2 separate regions of the Homo sapiens genome follow, and region 1 is linked to region 2. The links come from fine-mapping of genetic effects on gene expression. Tissue or cell type: whole blood. Region 2 holds a variant in brackets; the other region holds the start of a gene. All regions are shown on one strand. Distances are from middle to middle.

What was found. PIP is the estimated chance that this variant, and not a neighbour inherited with it, causes the effect.
Region 1: it holds the start of CD63, and the variant in region 2 is fine-mapped to the expression of CD63 in whole blood (INTERVAL, PIP 0.97).

What each region holds. Positions count from the first base shown.
Region 1 is chr12:55,725,439-55,733,545 of GRCh38, reverse strand. It overlaps CD63 (CD63 molecule), which reads left to right and starts at 4,537. Exons shown (of 8, transcript NM_001780.6): 1 at 4,537-4,593; 2 at 5,194-5,270; 3 at 6,207-6,395; 4 at 6,582-6,656; 5 at 6,751-6,846; 6 at 7,285-7,425; 7 at 7,650-7,733; 8 at 7,920-8,107. The coding sequence starts at 5,205. The coding sequence ends at 7,985. CD63-AS1 (CD63 antisense RNA 1) reads right to left here and starts at 4,452. Exons shown (of 2, transcript NR_183514.1): 1 at 4,191-4,452; 2 at 2,694-3,884. RefSeq lists silencers at 4,191-4,570, 4,841-5,140 and an enhancer at 4,105-4,711.
Region 2 is chr12:55,193,329-55,201,435 of GRCh38, reverse strand. It overlaps the pseudogene OR10U1P. Among named protein-coding and RNA genes, the nearest start is that of OR10A7, 24 kb to the left of the region's middle. The variant C/T (reference allele first, on the strand shown) is at 4,536.

The DNA of each region.
Region 1 (8,107 bases), 530 kb before region 2:
CCTCCCAAAGTGCTGGGATTACAGGCGTGAGTCACCGCCCTGGCCACACCTGGCTAATTTTTGTATTTGTAGTAGAGATGGGGTTTCACTGTGTTGTCCAGGCTGGTCTCAAACTCTTGACCTCAGGTGATCCACCCGCCTCGGCCTCCCAAAGTGCTAGGATTATAGGCGTGAGCCACCGCGCCTGGCCTGGAGACTCCTTTGTGTTCCCCAGTCTCCACCAACCAGTAAATACATAGTGGTGATGTCGCCATGGAGCCCGTGCACAGTACTCCCCTGGGGGCTGCACTCAGTGCTGGTGCTGGGGCATATAACCTACTCTCTGGAGAGCCCTGCGGGATGGTCTATGAGCTTTTCTGCCAGCAGGACCTGCAAACGCGCAGGTGCAGCCCCTCCTTCACCCTGCGATCTGAGAGATGCCATCAAGCACCGTGCCTCTATCCTTATCCAAAGCTGAGGCCTCTGGACTTAAATTTCAGGCCCCCATTTCAGACCCAACCTCTGGACCTTGAATTTTATCCACCACTCTCCTTACCCTCCCAGTGGGGGGATGGCTTTGATGATGCATCCTTGTTTCCTTCTTCCCTCCCATCCCTATCTCTTCCTCTTCCCTCTCCCCACTCCTCTCTTACACCTATTTTTCAAAAATTAAAGAAAATGTTTTTTAAACTGAAGCCCAAGAAGCATTGATCCTTCATGTATTTTTGCCTCCTCTTCCCCCATCCTTCCCCATGCCTCCCACCCTCCTCTATGTCTCTCACTTTCCGGTTTTTCCTCACCCCTCTCCCAACTCTCCTCAACTGTTCTTTTCCCTTGATTCTGGATCCCTTCTTTCTTCCTCACCTTCCTCATATCCCCTCACCCTCCTCATATCCCCTCACCCTTTCCTGTGCTTAGATGCAGGCTACAAGCTGCTGTGCATGGCACTGGGTCTGGCTGATGCCTACATGCTCTCAGAAGGCTGCAGGTTTGCTTGAGACATCTGTGGCCCCCATGCTGTGTCGCTGGGCCTAGGTGGAGGCGTGGTGAAGCTGGAGGGAAAGCTGGCTTTGCTTGGTGTGGAGGGACAAGGGTCCCCGCCTCAGCACACCTACCACCAACTGGTGCCAGGCAACCAAGAGGCAGCAGCCTGGGCCAGCCAGGACGGCTTGGTGGCATATCTGGATGTCAGGCACTTGGAACAGGTGCTGGGGGATCTGAAGGATGTGAAGGGCCAGGTCTGAGATCAGCCACTTCCCACTAAGAGGCCCCTCTATCCTGCACCCCAGCAAACACATGGAGCTCTGTGTCAACTTTCCAGGCTGTAGAAGTGGGCCATTCTTTGTGTGTATGTGTGTAGTAAAATATATATAACATAAAATTCAGGGACATTGAGTACATACACATTGTGCAACCATCAGCACCATCCATCTCCACAACATTTTCATCTTTCTTTCTTTTTCTTTGAGACAGAGTCTCGCTCTGTTGCCCAGGCTGGAGTGCAATGGCACAATATCGGCTCTACTAAAAATACAAAATTATCCAGGCATGGTGGCGCATGCCTGTAATCCCGGCTACTCAGGAGGCTGAGGCAGGAGAATCTCTTGAACCTGGGAGGCAGAGGTTGTGGTGAGTTGTGCCACTGCACTCCAGCCTGGGCAACAAGAGCAAAACTCCATCTCAAAAACAAAAACAAAAACAAAAAACCTAGATGTTTATGGTTAAGGAAACAAATTAATAATAATAAAAAAGATAATATCGATTCTTACAAAATACAGTAATTAAGAAAATTAATCCTTTATCACAAACTTTTGTAGCAGAGCACATCTCTCCATATATACAAGCATTATACCGAGGGTGAATGTGTTCCTCCTCTTACTTTTTTTTTTTGAGACAGAGTTTTGCCGGGCACAGTGGCTCACGCCTGTAATCCCAGCACTTTGGAAGGCTGAGGGGGCGGATCACGAGGTCAATAGATGGAGACCATCCTGGCCAATATGGTGAAACCCCATCTCTACTAAAAACACAAAAATTAGCTGGGCGTAGTGGTGCGTGCCTGTAGTCCCAGCTACTTGGGAGGCTGAGGCAGGAGAATCACTTGAACACGGGAGGCGGAGGTTGCAGTGAGCCAAGATGGCACCACTGCACTCCACCCTGGTGACAGAGCGAGACTCCGTCTCAAAAAAAAAAAAAAAAAAAAGAGAGACGGAGTTTCACTCTTGTTGCCCAGGATGGCATGCAGCAACACGATCTCTGCTCACTGCAACCTCTGCCTCCTGGGTTCAAGTGATTCTCCTGCCTCAGCCTCCTGAGTAGCTGGGACTACAGGCACACATCATTGTGCCCAGCTACTTTTTGTATTTTTAGTAGAGACGGGGTTTCACCGTGTTGGCCAGGCTGGTCTCGAACTCCTGACCTCAGGTGATCCACCTGCCTAGGCCTCCCAAAATGCTGGGATTACAGGTGTGGTGAGCCACTGCGCCTAGCCCCTCCTCTTACTTTGGGGAACATCCTACTCTGTCTATGGAGCAGCTGTTGTTTCACCACTTTACTTTCTTAATAAACTTGCTTATACTTTGCACTGCGACTCGCCCTGAATCTTTCTTGCATGAGATCCAAGAACCCTCTCTTGTGGTCTGGATTGGGACCCCTTTCCTGTAACAAATGCATTGGCTGATAGGAGAATAAAGAAAAAAAAAGAGGAAAAACTAGAGTAACTTCTCTACATAATCATATTATATGACCGTTTTGTTAACCATGATAACAGTTAACAAAATAATTTTCTTATGTCTAATTCTCAGTCCATGTCTGTATGTCCCAAAATGTCTTTCACAGCTGGTTTGTTCAACCATTCAATGAAGGACCAAACATTGCAGTTGGTTGTTATGTATCTAGTCTCTCAATCTTGATCTTCAGACCACCTTCAGCCCATCTCACCACATCCGTCCCAAGCCCTTTGAGCCAGCCAACCCCAACCTGCCATGTACTTTACAAAATGCTCCTTTTTTTTCCACAGTCGACTGCTTCTCTGTCCCTGGAGCTCTCCCCTTTATTCTCCAAGGTCACCTTGAGCACATCCTTCTGCTCCGTGAAATCCATTCTCCTCTCCCTTTCCCTCCCTCTGAGCTTAACCAGCTGCCACCGCAGGCTTCTGCCTTTCTTCACAGTGTGGCCAGAACTCGGTTCTGCCTGCTAGCAGAGGGCAGGGCCGCTGTCTTCCTCTCCTTGCAGCCCCCAAGCCTAGCACATGCCTGGCATCTAGTGGCAGCACAATAAGGAACCTGATGAATACTCCTTTCTTCTGCTCTCCGCTCCTCCTCCACAGCCTGCCAGCCATGGTCAGGAAGAGCAAGATCCGGAATGGGCTTGGTGTGTCCCGCGGGAAGGCCGTGATCCTGGAAGATGCTTCTCAGCCCAGCCCGGATCTCCTTCCTTTAGCTCTAGAGACTTCTTTCATTCTTTGTGTACACACATACACTAAGACTCAGGAAGTGGTTCTTGAGGCAGGACCTTAAGAGCCCAAGGAGTGGGGCCGAGGCTGGAGGTGTGGGGGTGTGACGGCCGGTCCTACTCTCCGGCCTGTTCAGATCAGCTCCTTCTGGGGACCACCCCTGGCACACAAGGGAGGGAGGCAGCTTGATCCCCCTAGCCCGCTTCCAGCCCTCACCTGGCTTTGTCTTCTGGGATAAGACGGGGAAATCCAGAGGATGTAAGCCTCTCCTGCCTTCGTGTCTTCCCCCAAGCCCTCGCTATCACAGACGGATGCAGGAGCTGTCTGGGAGGCTGGAAGCACAGACCTTGTCAATCCTCCCCCAGAGGGCGGGACCCGACGCGGACGTGTCTTGATTGACTGGGTAGCGTGGCTTCGGGGAAGGGCTTCCTCCCCTTTTCTCAGACTAGGATCCCTGGAAAATGGAGAAGCTGTGCTAATAGAGGGGGGCCAGAAATCCCCACTCTAGAATGCTGTAGAATGTTGGGAGACACCCAGGATGTGAGCCAGGGACTTTCTGGAAGTGTTTGTTCTGGCCCCACCCGACCCCAGGCAGTCCCCAGCTGTCTGCACAGTCGGATGGGGAGGGGGCTTGCACAGAGTTGGAGCCAGAGGAGAGAGCTGGCTCATCCCCTACGGTAGGATGGGGAAACCTCACAGACCACATTGTCACCCGGCCTCAGCTCTCCGCCCCGGCGCTCAGAGGGTAACTCTCACCCACCTCGTCCGCTTCTCTGAACCAGAGTGACCCAGGCTGCGCTCCGCCCCGCTCTCCTACCCCGAGTTGGCACGGAGGTATAGCGCCAGAGGGGGGCCCCAGGCGCCCCGAGGTCTTGCCCTTGCGGCTTTCCCTTTGCGGGGGTGGGCGCCTTCTTCCGGGTAGGGGCCACGTGGCCCTGGCCGGGCGGGGGGCTCGGCCCACCCCGCGCCGGGCCCAGTGACTCAGGCCGCAGCTGTTACCGCGTCACATGAGGGAGGCCGGCGGCCACTCGGCGGGGGAGGGGACCGTGGCTGGAGCCCGGGGCGGGGCCGCGCGGCAGGCGGGGCGGGAGCCGGGGGGCGCAGCTAGAGAGCCCCGGAGCCGCGGCGGGAGAGGAACGCGCAGCCAGCCTTGGGAAGCCCAGGTGAGGCCGCGGGGACCCGGCGGACTTCGGCGCGGGCTGGGAGAGACCACCCGCAGTCCCTTCCTCCAGGGCTCGCCCCAGGCCCGCGGAGACTCGTCCGGCGCTCTCCAGCCGCCCTGGAGCAACTTTGCTTCGAAGTTCCCTGGGCCCGGGCAGGGTGTGGCGGGGGTGCTGGCTGCACTTTTTTTTTTTTTGGTGGGCGGGGAGGTCAGAGCCCAGGGGAAAGGGGCTGGGGCGGGGGTCGGGGTTGGGCTGAAGACCGTTTCTCCAGGCTGGGTGTTGGGTGGGGAAAGGGTGTTTGACGCCCGGAGACTGGCGGGCCGAGGGTCGGCGTCAGGCTCAAGCCCCTGCCGGCGCCCTTGGATCTGTCCTGGGCCCCAGAGGCGGCGGGGCGGGGTCCGGGCTTCGCGGCCGTCGCCCCCACCCCTCTCCTGCGGGTAAAGAGGGGGCTGGGAGACGTGGATCCGACCGCGGGTTTCCGGGTGGGAGGGGCCGGGAATCGGGGCCGTGAAGGGAAGCCCTCGAGGGCCGGCCGGGAGCCCGGAAACCGAGGTCCCCCTTCGGCCAGTTTTAATCCCCCCGCCCTCCCCTCTGCCCCAGGCCCGGCAGCCATGGCGGTGGAAGGAGGAATGAAATGTGTGAAGTTCTTGCTCTACGTCCTCCTGCTGGCCTTTTGCGTGAGTGGCGAGGGGTCCTGGGGGGCGCGCCGGCAGGGTGCGGGGAGACCTGGCTCCACAGTGGTGAGGGCTGAGGGAATGAGAATTAAGGCAGCTGGAGACCAGATGTGGAAAGAAAGCCAGGGAAAGACAGCGCAGCCACTCCCTCCTCCAGTTTTCCTGGACACCTGAGGCTTGTTTCCACCGAGAATGGCCATCCTGGGTGTGCAGCAACCCCTACCCCCATCCCTCCTGGCCCTTCCTGTCTGGTGACCCAACCACTTGTGATATGGGGCAGTGGGGCAACCAGCCAACCGCCTGATGCTATCGCCATGGGGCTTCCCTTCGCTCTCCCTTCTCCCCTCTCTCCCTCCCCAACCCTCTCATCCCTGTCCAGCCCCTCTCCCCCTTTCCCTCCTCCCAGCGCTTGGGGGTGAGGAAGGGCTCTGCCCACTTCAATTTGCTCCTGCCCTGGGCTCCTGGCTTGAGAGGCTACTGTTTGTCTAGGGAGGGACACATCACTCTTGCTCCCTTTTCCTCTTCCCTTCTCCTGGCCTAACTGGCCAGAGGAACCTTAGTCACAGCTGATGCGCGCGTGGGATGTGCACTGGAGGATAGTGAGGGGGCAGTTCTGGGAGAGAATTGAGCTGGGAGCCCTGGAGGCCTGTAGAAAGCATTATTCTAGGTCAGAAATACGTGTCTTGAGGTCAAGGCTTTCTGGGAGGTTTTTGAATTTGGTCATGTCCCTGATTAAAGAGCCGGGAGGGGATCAGGGGAGGTAGGGGCAGGCAAGGATGGGTCATCCCCCTACCCCACAGCCAAAGAAATTCCCTAGAGGTGTGAGAATCTCTCTTCCGGATGGGGTCAAGTCTGTGTCCTAGGTGTACCCCCTGCCCTCCACCATGGAGGGCCACTGTGTTGTGGATATGGCCTAATCCTCACCTGATTTTCTCTTAGGCCTGTGCAGTGGGACTGATTGCCGTGGGTGTCGGGGCACAGCTTGTCCTGAGTCAGACCATAATCCAGGGGGCTACCCCTGGCTCTCTGTTGCCAGTGGTCATCATCGCAGTGGGTGTCTTCCTCTTCCTGGTGGCTTTTGTGGGCTGCTGCGGGGCCTGCAAGGAGAACTATTGTCTTATGATCACGGTGAGTTGGGGGCGGGACCAACATGGGCGGTCTGGGACTGCCAGAGCAGCTTGGTTCGGGCTCAGGAAGGTGGGTGAGGTGGGTGGGTGAGGAAGACCTTTGTGAGTGTCCAGGGACCGGCTGTGCCAAAACGGGCCCCTGTAATGCATAGACTCCAAACTTGACTTCTGTCCTTTGCTCCTGCAGTTTGCCATCTTTCTGTCTCTTATCATGTTGGTGGAGGTGGCCGCAGCCATTGCTGGCTATGTGTTTAGAGATAAGGTAAGCAGGGAATAATGGGAAGGGCCTGCCTCAGCCGGGTCTGGGACCCTGGTGCTTGAATTCTGACTGCAACAGTGCTCCTCCGTACTCTCAGGTGATGTCAGAGTTTAATAACAACTTCCGGCAGCAGATGGAGAATTACCCGAAAAACAACCACACTGCTTCGATCCTGGACAGGATGCAGGCAGATGTGAGTGGGGTTGCTGGGAGCAGGGGTGGTGGGAATAGAGAATTCTCATCTCCAAGGCTGGGTGTGGTGACTCACGCCTGTAATCTCAGCACTTTTGAAGGCCGAGGTGGGCAGATCACCTGAGGTCAGAAGTTCAAGACTAGCCTGGCCAACGTGGTGAAACCCTGTCTCTACTAAAAATACAAAAATTAGCCAGGTGTGGTGGTGAGTGCCTGTAATCCCACCTACTCAGGAGGGTGAGGCAGGAGAATCGCTTGAACCCGGGAGGCGGAGGTTGCAGTGAGCCGAGATTGAGCCACCGCTGGGCACTTGTCTGGGCAACAGAGCAAGTCTCTGTCTCAAAAAAAAAAAAAAAAAAAAAAAAAGAATTCTCATCTCCATATTGAAGGTGAAGGTTCACTTAACAACCTTCTTCTCCATATTTCTTCCCTCCCCCAGTTTAAGTGCTGTGGGGCTGCTAACTACACAGATTGGGAGAAAATCCCTTCCATGTCGAAGAACCGAGTCCCCGACTCCTGCTGCATTAATGTTACTGTGGGCTGTGGGATTAATTTCAACGAGAAGGCGATCCATAAGGAGGTAGGGAGGAGACTGTGTATGGGACTTGGGAAACCTGGGAAATGTTTTAGAATGCAAGAGACCCAGGATGGAGGTGGACAGGGTCAGGGATGGGGAGGGGATCTGGAAATGCTAAGGGTGGGGTGAAAGGTACAGGGGCAGGGAAGAGACTGATGGACCAAGGGAGGGGGTTGGGGTGGGAAGTTTCTGATGGTGCTTTTGTCCTTTGTGCCTGCCACCTTCAGGGCTGTGTGGAGAAGATTGGGGGCTGGCTGAGGAAAAATGTGCTGGTGGTAGCTGCAGCAGCCCTTGGAATTGCTTTTGTCGAGGTAAGAGATAACCCTGAGCAGGGGCTGGGACTCTGTCCAGGGTGCCTGGAGGGAAGGGGCTGAGGGGAGGAGGGTGCTGAACAGGAGGTACTGGCCTGGGAGTGTGTGTTTGGAGTCTCTTGCATGGGTCTGAGGTAGCTAGCCCTTCTGACTCCTCTCCACCCCTGTCCCCATCTTTCCTTCTAGGTTTTGGGAATTGTCTTTGCCTGCTGCCTCGTGAAGAGTATCAGAAGTGGCTACGAGGTGATGTAGGGGTCTGGTCTCCTCAGCCTCCTCATCTGGGGGAGTGGAATAGTATCCTCCAGGTTTTTCAATTAAACGGATTATTTTTTCAGACCGAAAAGAGATGGTCTGAGTTTGTCTTAGAGTGATGC
Region 2 (8,107 bases):
TAGTCTGGTTAAAGGTTTGTCAAATTTGTTTAACTTTTCAAAAAAAAGTTTTGTTTTGTTGATATTTAGTATTATTTTGTTTCAATTTTATTTATTTATGATCTGATCTTTATTATTCCTTTTCTTTGCCTTATTTTTAGTTTGGTTTGCTATTGCTTTTCTAGTTCTTTGTATTTGTTTCTGTTTCTGGATGGTTACTTGTACTTTTGTCTGGAATATAATCCCCTCTTTCTTTATTTTCCTTGATTCCCTCTTTTGGTTTCTGCAAATTAGATAAGATTACCTCTCTTCATCTTGTTAGACTGGTCTTGTGTATGAGAAGGTTTTGCCAATTCAACTGGCCAAAGATTTTAAGATGCCTCCAAAATCTGTGTGTTTGTCCAGATTGCTATCTTGGTTTTTGGTGGCCCTCTGGAGCTTAGGGCATGTCACATTTTGTCAGTACTCTGTTATCAGTATAAGAGCTAAGCTCTTAGGATGAAGCTGAAAAGGTTGAGGTTTTTGATATGTGTTCTAGTTCTTTCTATTTTCATGGTGAAGATGATGGTGGGCATTTATCTTGTAGTCTCTCTGCACTAAACTAGGAAGGGGATCTGCAGCAAATGCCTGTTCTCACATGCAGGCTACATTTTCTTATCCTAGACAGAGAGCTTCTGGAAATGGTCCTACTATATGTCTACATGTTTGTTTTCTGTGGTCTTGGGTCACTCAGATTCACAAAGCCCCCTTGATTTCAAAGCTAGGTCTCTAAGGAGACAGTTCCTTAGGTGGGAGCTATGGAAGTTGTGGCATTTGATACATAGCTAAATTTCTTCCAGAAAGAATGAATAGGCCTGGATTTATCTCTGGAGTAAGCTGAGAAGAGGTCTCAGAAAGTACCTCGCTCTTGCTTTGGCAACCAAAAGCTTGTTGTTTCTTTGTCCTGTTAGCTTCTCAATATAAGTTCATTAGAAACCAGGCCATCAGGTAGCCACTGGGAGTGTGTGTTATATGCTCCTTATTGAAAGAATGTGAGAGTGCACATTCCTGCCCCCTTTCTGCACTGTACCAAGGGAATGGTGCATCTGGAAGTGTTTGGATACCCATTTAGTATCACCTCTCAGTTCTGTGATCAAGGGAGACTTGCATATGCCTAATCTCTTCTGCTTCCAGAACTACTAGGTTTAGGGTGGAGTTCTTGGGAAGTAGAGTTAGAACTTTTTGTTCTCTATGTGTGACCTCTATTTCTTCTGGGAAAACACAGAGAGAGCATCTTTTTAAGCCCCTTTTCTGTATTGCTCCAGTGAGATAAACTCCCTGGAGGTGCTTGCATGCCTGTCTGAAATGCCACTTTTTTTCTGCAGTGTAGACAGACGTATGTATGCCAGTCCTTTCTGTTCCCAGAGCCAGGAGATTTAGATTCTCCTTATTGCTCCAGGGAGATAAAATCCCTGAAGTTGCTTGCATAAGCCTCAAGGGATTTTATCTGGAGCAATACAGATAATCTAAAACTGGTATGTATCTGAAATACCACTTTTTTCTGCAGTGTAGAGAGATATGTACATGCCAGTCCTTTCTGCTCTCAGATCCAGGAGATTTAGGATGCAGTCCCTAAGTGAAGTGATAGTTTGACGTTTCAGTATGTATTAGTCTATTCTTGCATTGCTATCAAGAACTACCTGACTGGGTAATTTATAAAGAAAAGAGGTTTAATTCACTCACAGTTTCACAAACTGTATAGAAAGCATGGCTGAGGAGGCCTCAGGAAACTTACAATCATGGTAGAAAGCAAAGGGGAAGCAGACATGTCTTACATGGCTGAAGAGGGAGGAAGCAAGAAGTGGGAGGTGCTGCAGACTTTTAAACAACCAGATCTCATGAGAACTCACTCACTATCATGAGAACACCAAGGGGAAAATCTGCTCCCATGATCCAGTCACCTCCCACCAGGTCCCTCCTCCAACATTCAGGATTACAATTCAACATGAGATTTGGGTGGGGACACAAAGCCAAACTATATCAAGTGTTAGTGCAAATTTCTCCAGGGTTGGAAAATGGGCTAAGAATTGACTATCTTTTTAATTCTCCAATGCAAGTTAGGCAGAAATCCAACGGCTACGCAGCCTTTCGAGATGTTTCCAGGGAGAAACAAAGGACTGTTTTTTAAGTTTATTTCCTGCAATGCTCCCAGGTAGATGCAGTATCTAAAAGTGCCTGTGCACCCATATAAAACTGCCACTTTATTCTTTACTGTCTAGAGAGACACATTTGTGTCTGATATCCTCCATTCCCATAGTTGATGACTCAAAAGTTAAACCAAGGGGAAACTTAGGATTAAGACCCTCTACTGGGGTCCAGACCCTCTTCTCCACAGGGAGAAGCTGAATGTTGGGTGTTTCATTCCCAATTTTATGGTGCAGTGCTTATAGCTGGGTCTGTGTCCATGTATGCCTTGGTTTTTCCTACCTCTTCAATGTAAATGTTTTCTCAGTTTCCCAGTGGATAGGAGTCTCTCAACTGGTCTCAGACTTTCACTCAAAGGGAACTGATGTGTGAACAGATGTTTACTTGGTGAATCCATGGGTGGAGGGGGAGTTAGGAGCTTCCTATTCCATGTTCCTGATATCACTATGCCTTTAATTTTTACAAAAGTTTAATTAAGCATAAAATATTTATATTGCCACATTATAAATCAATACATGAACACACAAAAAAAGATTTTTATTGCCCTAAATCATAGTTATAAGTTGAGAATGAGGGTAAATATTTAAGCATTCTGACCCCAAAGCCCATTCCCCTTAACTGCTAAATTACATTGACTCTAATTTGATAACATTACATTTTTTGAAATCAACTCCTGATTCCTTTTCATTTGATATTTCTTACCTCAACTTATCCTTTCTCCTCTCACATTTAGTATAAATAGCAAGAGATTTCAAAACTTGGAAACTTCCTCAGTTAAATATACAAGTCCATCATTTTTAAGGATTCCTTTCCACACAACTGCAGGATACAATTCTGCTAAACTTTCTGCCACTATAGAGCAAGGATGCTTTTTCCTTCACATTCCAATAACACACCATTTATTTCCTTCTAAACCCTTACCAGAAGTGCCTTTAACATATATATCTCTATTAGTAATCTGATCACAGAGATTTAGGTATTCTCACAGTGTTTCTTAACACAATTTTTATCATTCATTATAGTTAAATTAATCTAGAAGAAAGAGCATAGGACAATAAAATAAAAGGAAGAATATATATGCTGGTATTAACTGACTTCAGAACCCAACTCTACTCTTTTGTACCTATAATACTTCGGGAAATTACATAATGACTATATTTAAGTTTCCTGGTCTTTATAATGGAGATAACAATAACTCTTTCAGAAAATTGTTATAAAAATTAAATGAGGAGATACATATACATATATCTATATAGTGAAACATGTATCTAACAAATGGTAAACACTAAAACTATTAGCTGCTATGTTGATCATATTATTTCTATTGACAAAGATGATCTTCATACTGTTACAAGTGATGGATAAATTAACTCTCATAAAACATGTTTTGGAATGACATTACAATGAATCCTCATCTCATATCAAACAGTGTAAGCCCAAGGACTTAATATTATAAACATGTTTATTTGTAATTGTTCTACCATGAGATACTCATAGTTTTAAATTACACTTTTAATTCAAAAATCAAAAACTGAAATTAAAGTTGTACTGTTTTATTTTCAAAATGCGGGAAAGAAAAGCTGTGTGTTAGATGGCTCCTTCACACCAGCTATTAAGGCCAGGTGTGGTGGCTCACGCCTATAATCCCAGCACTTTGAGAGGCCAAGGTGGGCGGATCACCTGAGGTCAGGAGTTCAAAACCAGCCTGGCCAAGATGGCAAAACCCCGTCTCTATTAAAAATACAAAAATTAGCCGGGCGCGGTGGTGGGTGCCTGTAATCCCAGGTACTTGGGAGGCTGAGGCAAGAGAATCACTTGAACCCTGGAGGCGGAGTTTACAGTGAGTCAAGATTGCGCCATTGCACTCCAGCCTGGGGGTCAGAGCGAGACTCCATCTCAAAAAAATAAATAAAAATAAATAAAAATAAAAAAGCTCATGGTTCTCCCATCTTAAAAACGTAGTGAATCACAATAAGTCATTGTGTCCTGTCCTTTCATTTTCTCCAGTTATTACCCTGTCTTCCTCCTGCCCTTCATGGCCAAATTTCTAGAATGTATTGCTCCTACTGGTTTTTTTCATTTTTAAAATTCTATTTCCTCAAAAACAACTTCACTCTGGTTCATGTTCTTACTTCTCTTTCCAAATTATTTTTTTCTGAAGTCATCAATAGCCTGTGTGGAGCTAAAAGTCAACAGATAATTAAAAGCTATTTTTTCACACCATCTCAGAAATATTTGGTGCAGTTGATCACTCCCTTCCTAAATACTCTCTTTTCTTGCCTTCAAAAATACCACATAGATAAGATGCACCCTTTCATCTCAAGTACTTTTTCCAGGACCATTGAAAAACTCCTGGACTCTAGGAGGATGTG[C/T]GATAGATAGCATGATGGAATCTGGAGTCTATATGTTGTTGTTATTATCAGTAGTGCATATACTAATCTGGCCATTATCTCACCAAACATTGTTTCCTCTTACCCACTTACTCAGGATAAAAGCAGATCTGAGGCAGCAGGAGAGGACTTTTTACTATTCTCACTTAAATACCCCACATCCAATCATGTATCCATATTTAAAAAAAATTCCTCTAATTTCAGAATCAGATTGAGAAATAAACACAACACAGAGTCCAGGTGGGAATTAATGTGGAGAAATTAGCAGCTGTTTTTGTTTTGTAAGTATTTTGTGGCAAAAACATATCAAAGAAATACAGCTATGTACTTACTCTTACTCCCAGACCCTGGTGGGGAGATTTGGCAAAATATCACTGATTATGCATGATGTGACCTTCTGCTGCAGTATTTCAGGGATGCTATACCATCAAATAGAATGCGTTTTCTTAAATATTAGGTTGGTGCAAAGTAATGGCAAAAACCCGCAATTAATTTTGCACCAACCTAAACATTCTCAATGTGGTATATTCATTCTGGCAGTACCTCCACACTGATGGAAGAGCACTCCCCAAAACACATGGCTTTCATCTCTGAGGCAGCATGAGTGGCACAAAAAAAGCATACATATTTTTTTAGGAGGGAGAGACAATGTCTAAAACTCCTGCCTTTTGGTTTGGCATGGGAATCGTGGGAGGCGAGAATAGCAGTCCCATCTAACGCATTAGTTTCAAAACTGATCGATCTTGTAACCTCTTTTACTTGCCTTACTCTATGTCCCAATGAATTTACCATATTGACCTGACAGTGAAAAGAAAATGTGTCCGGAATGGAGCAATGGGGATCATTCAGAATGAAAAATATTTTCATTTCTTGAAGACAGTAGAAGAAAAATACATTTTTTAATGTTTTTGACCAATTACTTTAATTAATTCCATTGGAAATTTGGGGTTTTCTTCCCGTGCCTATTTTTTTAATGCTGCTAGCAATTGAATAATAAATAATGAATAAAGTGAATGCTATTTTGGGGGTTTATGGAGGCTACTATGTTCCATGCACTGTGCCTACCAATATTACAAAGGCCTAATTAGTCACTGTCCATTTGAGGAGCTTAAAAAGGATTACTATGGCAAACATCCATAGAGTTTAATAATAATTTCAGTTGTATGATGGGTTCCAATTAGCAACTTTTAGTTTTATGCATTGGAACAGGTGATATAACTGACAGCAATAGGTATCTCTGGAAATGTCTTTAACAACTGAAAACCAACTTGCACATTAAACACTCATTGTTTTTAATATACTCCTCTTGAGACAAATATAATTAAGCTGCACAGTGGATGTATTCCCTATGGTCTCTAGTAGAAATAAAAATACTGCCTATTCTATCACTGTGCTATAATTTAGAGCCATAGGAAGTCTAGGAGCCCAAAAAGGAAAAGAAAGCTTACCTTGTGGTTCTAGGTATGTTCTCCTATTTGTAATTTCTTGCAAATTTACACTGAGGTTGTAGAAAGGAGATTCTGTCGATTTTGGCTTTCTTGGATCTTAGCTTTGTAATTATTTGCTTATTCTGTTCAGATCAAGTAAAATATGTACATAAATACATAGATAAACAGCTGGAAATATATTCCCTTTTAAGCCCTTAAGTGTAGCTTTAAGGAAGGTTATAGAATTTGGAAGACCAGAGTATAACACCTTTACATCTGAATCTATTAATTTTTATGTGACTCCTTTAAAATTATAAGTCTTCATATATTGCTTGCATAATAGCTTCTGTATATAATTAGTGATAAGACAAAAACAAAAGATTCAGAATATGCAACTTAAAAACCATTGTTTTTTCCAAATGTTTGTGAAAATTGCATATAATCCATAACTTAAAATCAGGAAGAAATATGTATTCGATGTAATTGTGTAGTTTAGAAAGATTTAACAGAAGAAATCCAGGTGTCTAGATTCTCATCTCAGACTACTGATTCTAGGAAAGCTCCTTTGCTGTGGTTCAGTAGAGAGATGTGTTAGGTGACTGCATTCCCATTAACCTGCCTTCTTTGTTGTCTGCACAGATGTTTAGCTCTGAGCCCACCATAGATGGAAATCAGTCCCTGTGTGCCAAATTCACATTTGTGGCTTTTTCTTCTATAGAAGAATTACAGCTTGTACTCTTCATTGTGTTCTTAATCATCACTTATGCACTATAGGAGGAAATATCATCATCATCTCCCTGATCTGGATCACCCCTGCCCTGCACACTCCAATGTATTTCTTCCTGGTGAACCTCTCATTTCTGGAGATGTGCTATACCACCAGTGTGGTGCCTCATGCTGGTGCACCTGCTGGTGGAGACCAAAACCATAAGTGTGGGTGGCTGTGCAACCCAGATGTACATATTTGCCATCTTGGGACTGACAGAATGCTGCTTGCTAGCAGCTATGGCTTACGATCGCTTTGTAGCTATTTGTTACCCACTGCATTACACTCTCTTCATGGGCCCTCGTGTTTGTTTGAAATTGGCTGCAGCATCTTGGTTCACTGGAGTGGTGGTGGAGTCAGCCCAGATCACCCTGATCTTCACTTTGCCTTTCTGTGGAACAGGAAAGATTCAACACTTTTTTGTGACATAATGCCTGTACTGAAACTGGCTTGTATTGATACCTCCCAAATTGAAATTGTGATGTTTTCTCTCTCCGTGCTATTTATTGTGAGTCCTTGTTTCCTCATTCTGTGCTCCCACATGCACATCCCTGTGACCATCTTGAGAATCCCTTCAGCAGCTGGAAGACACAAAGCTTTCTCCACTTGTTCTTCTCATATCTTGGTTGTTTCTCTGTTCTATGGCACTGCCTTGTTCACTTATCTGCAACCTAAGACTGCACACACTCCAGAAACAGACAAAGCAACTGCACTCATGTACACAATGGTCACACCTGCTTTGAATCCTGTTATCTATACCTTGAGGAACAAGGAAGTAAAGGAAGCCTTTCAAAGGATAACCCAAAGGAACTCTCTTAGACAAACGGCCTAAACCAGTCATAGTAGCTGAAACCTATGCTACTGTACAGAGAGGTTACCCGATTTTATGATTCTTCTACCAACATATTCTTTTATTAAAGCATTTATAGCCTAGCTACCAAAAAACATTTGGATTTGTCACACATTTTTCAATGTCTGTAAGTAAAAGGAAACTACACAGTAGATTCATTCAATTGTTAATCATTCATTCATTCAACAGTATTTACAGGGCATCTCATGTGTCAAGCTACCATTTTCTCCTTCTCCAGTGGTAATAGCATTAAGTCCAGTATGTTTCATGCCATTTTCCTGAGGAAAATGAAATATCCTTTATGAGTATAAAACAAAAAATGAAATAAACAGGAAGTAATACTATTTTAGTATCAAATATAGTCTATTAGAATTTAAGTTCTTAATTGGAGTATGCTCCTTTAATTAGTGTGCTCTCTGTACATCTTAAGGTCATACATATTAAATAACCAACTGTTAATAAATACTAATGAGTGGTGTACACCATGAAAGAACTTTAAATATTTAGTTTG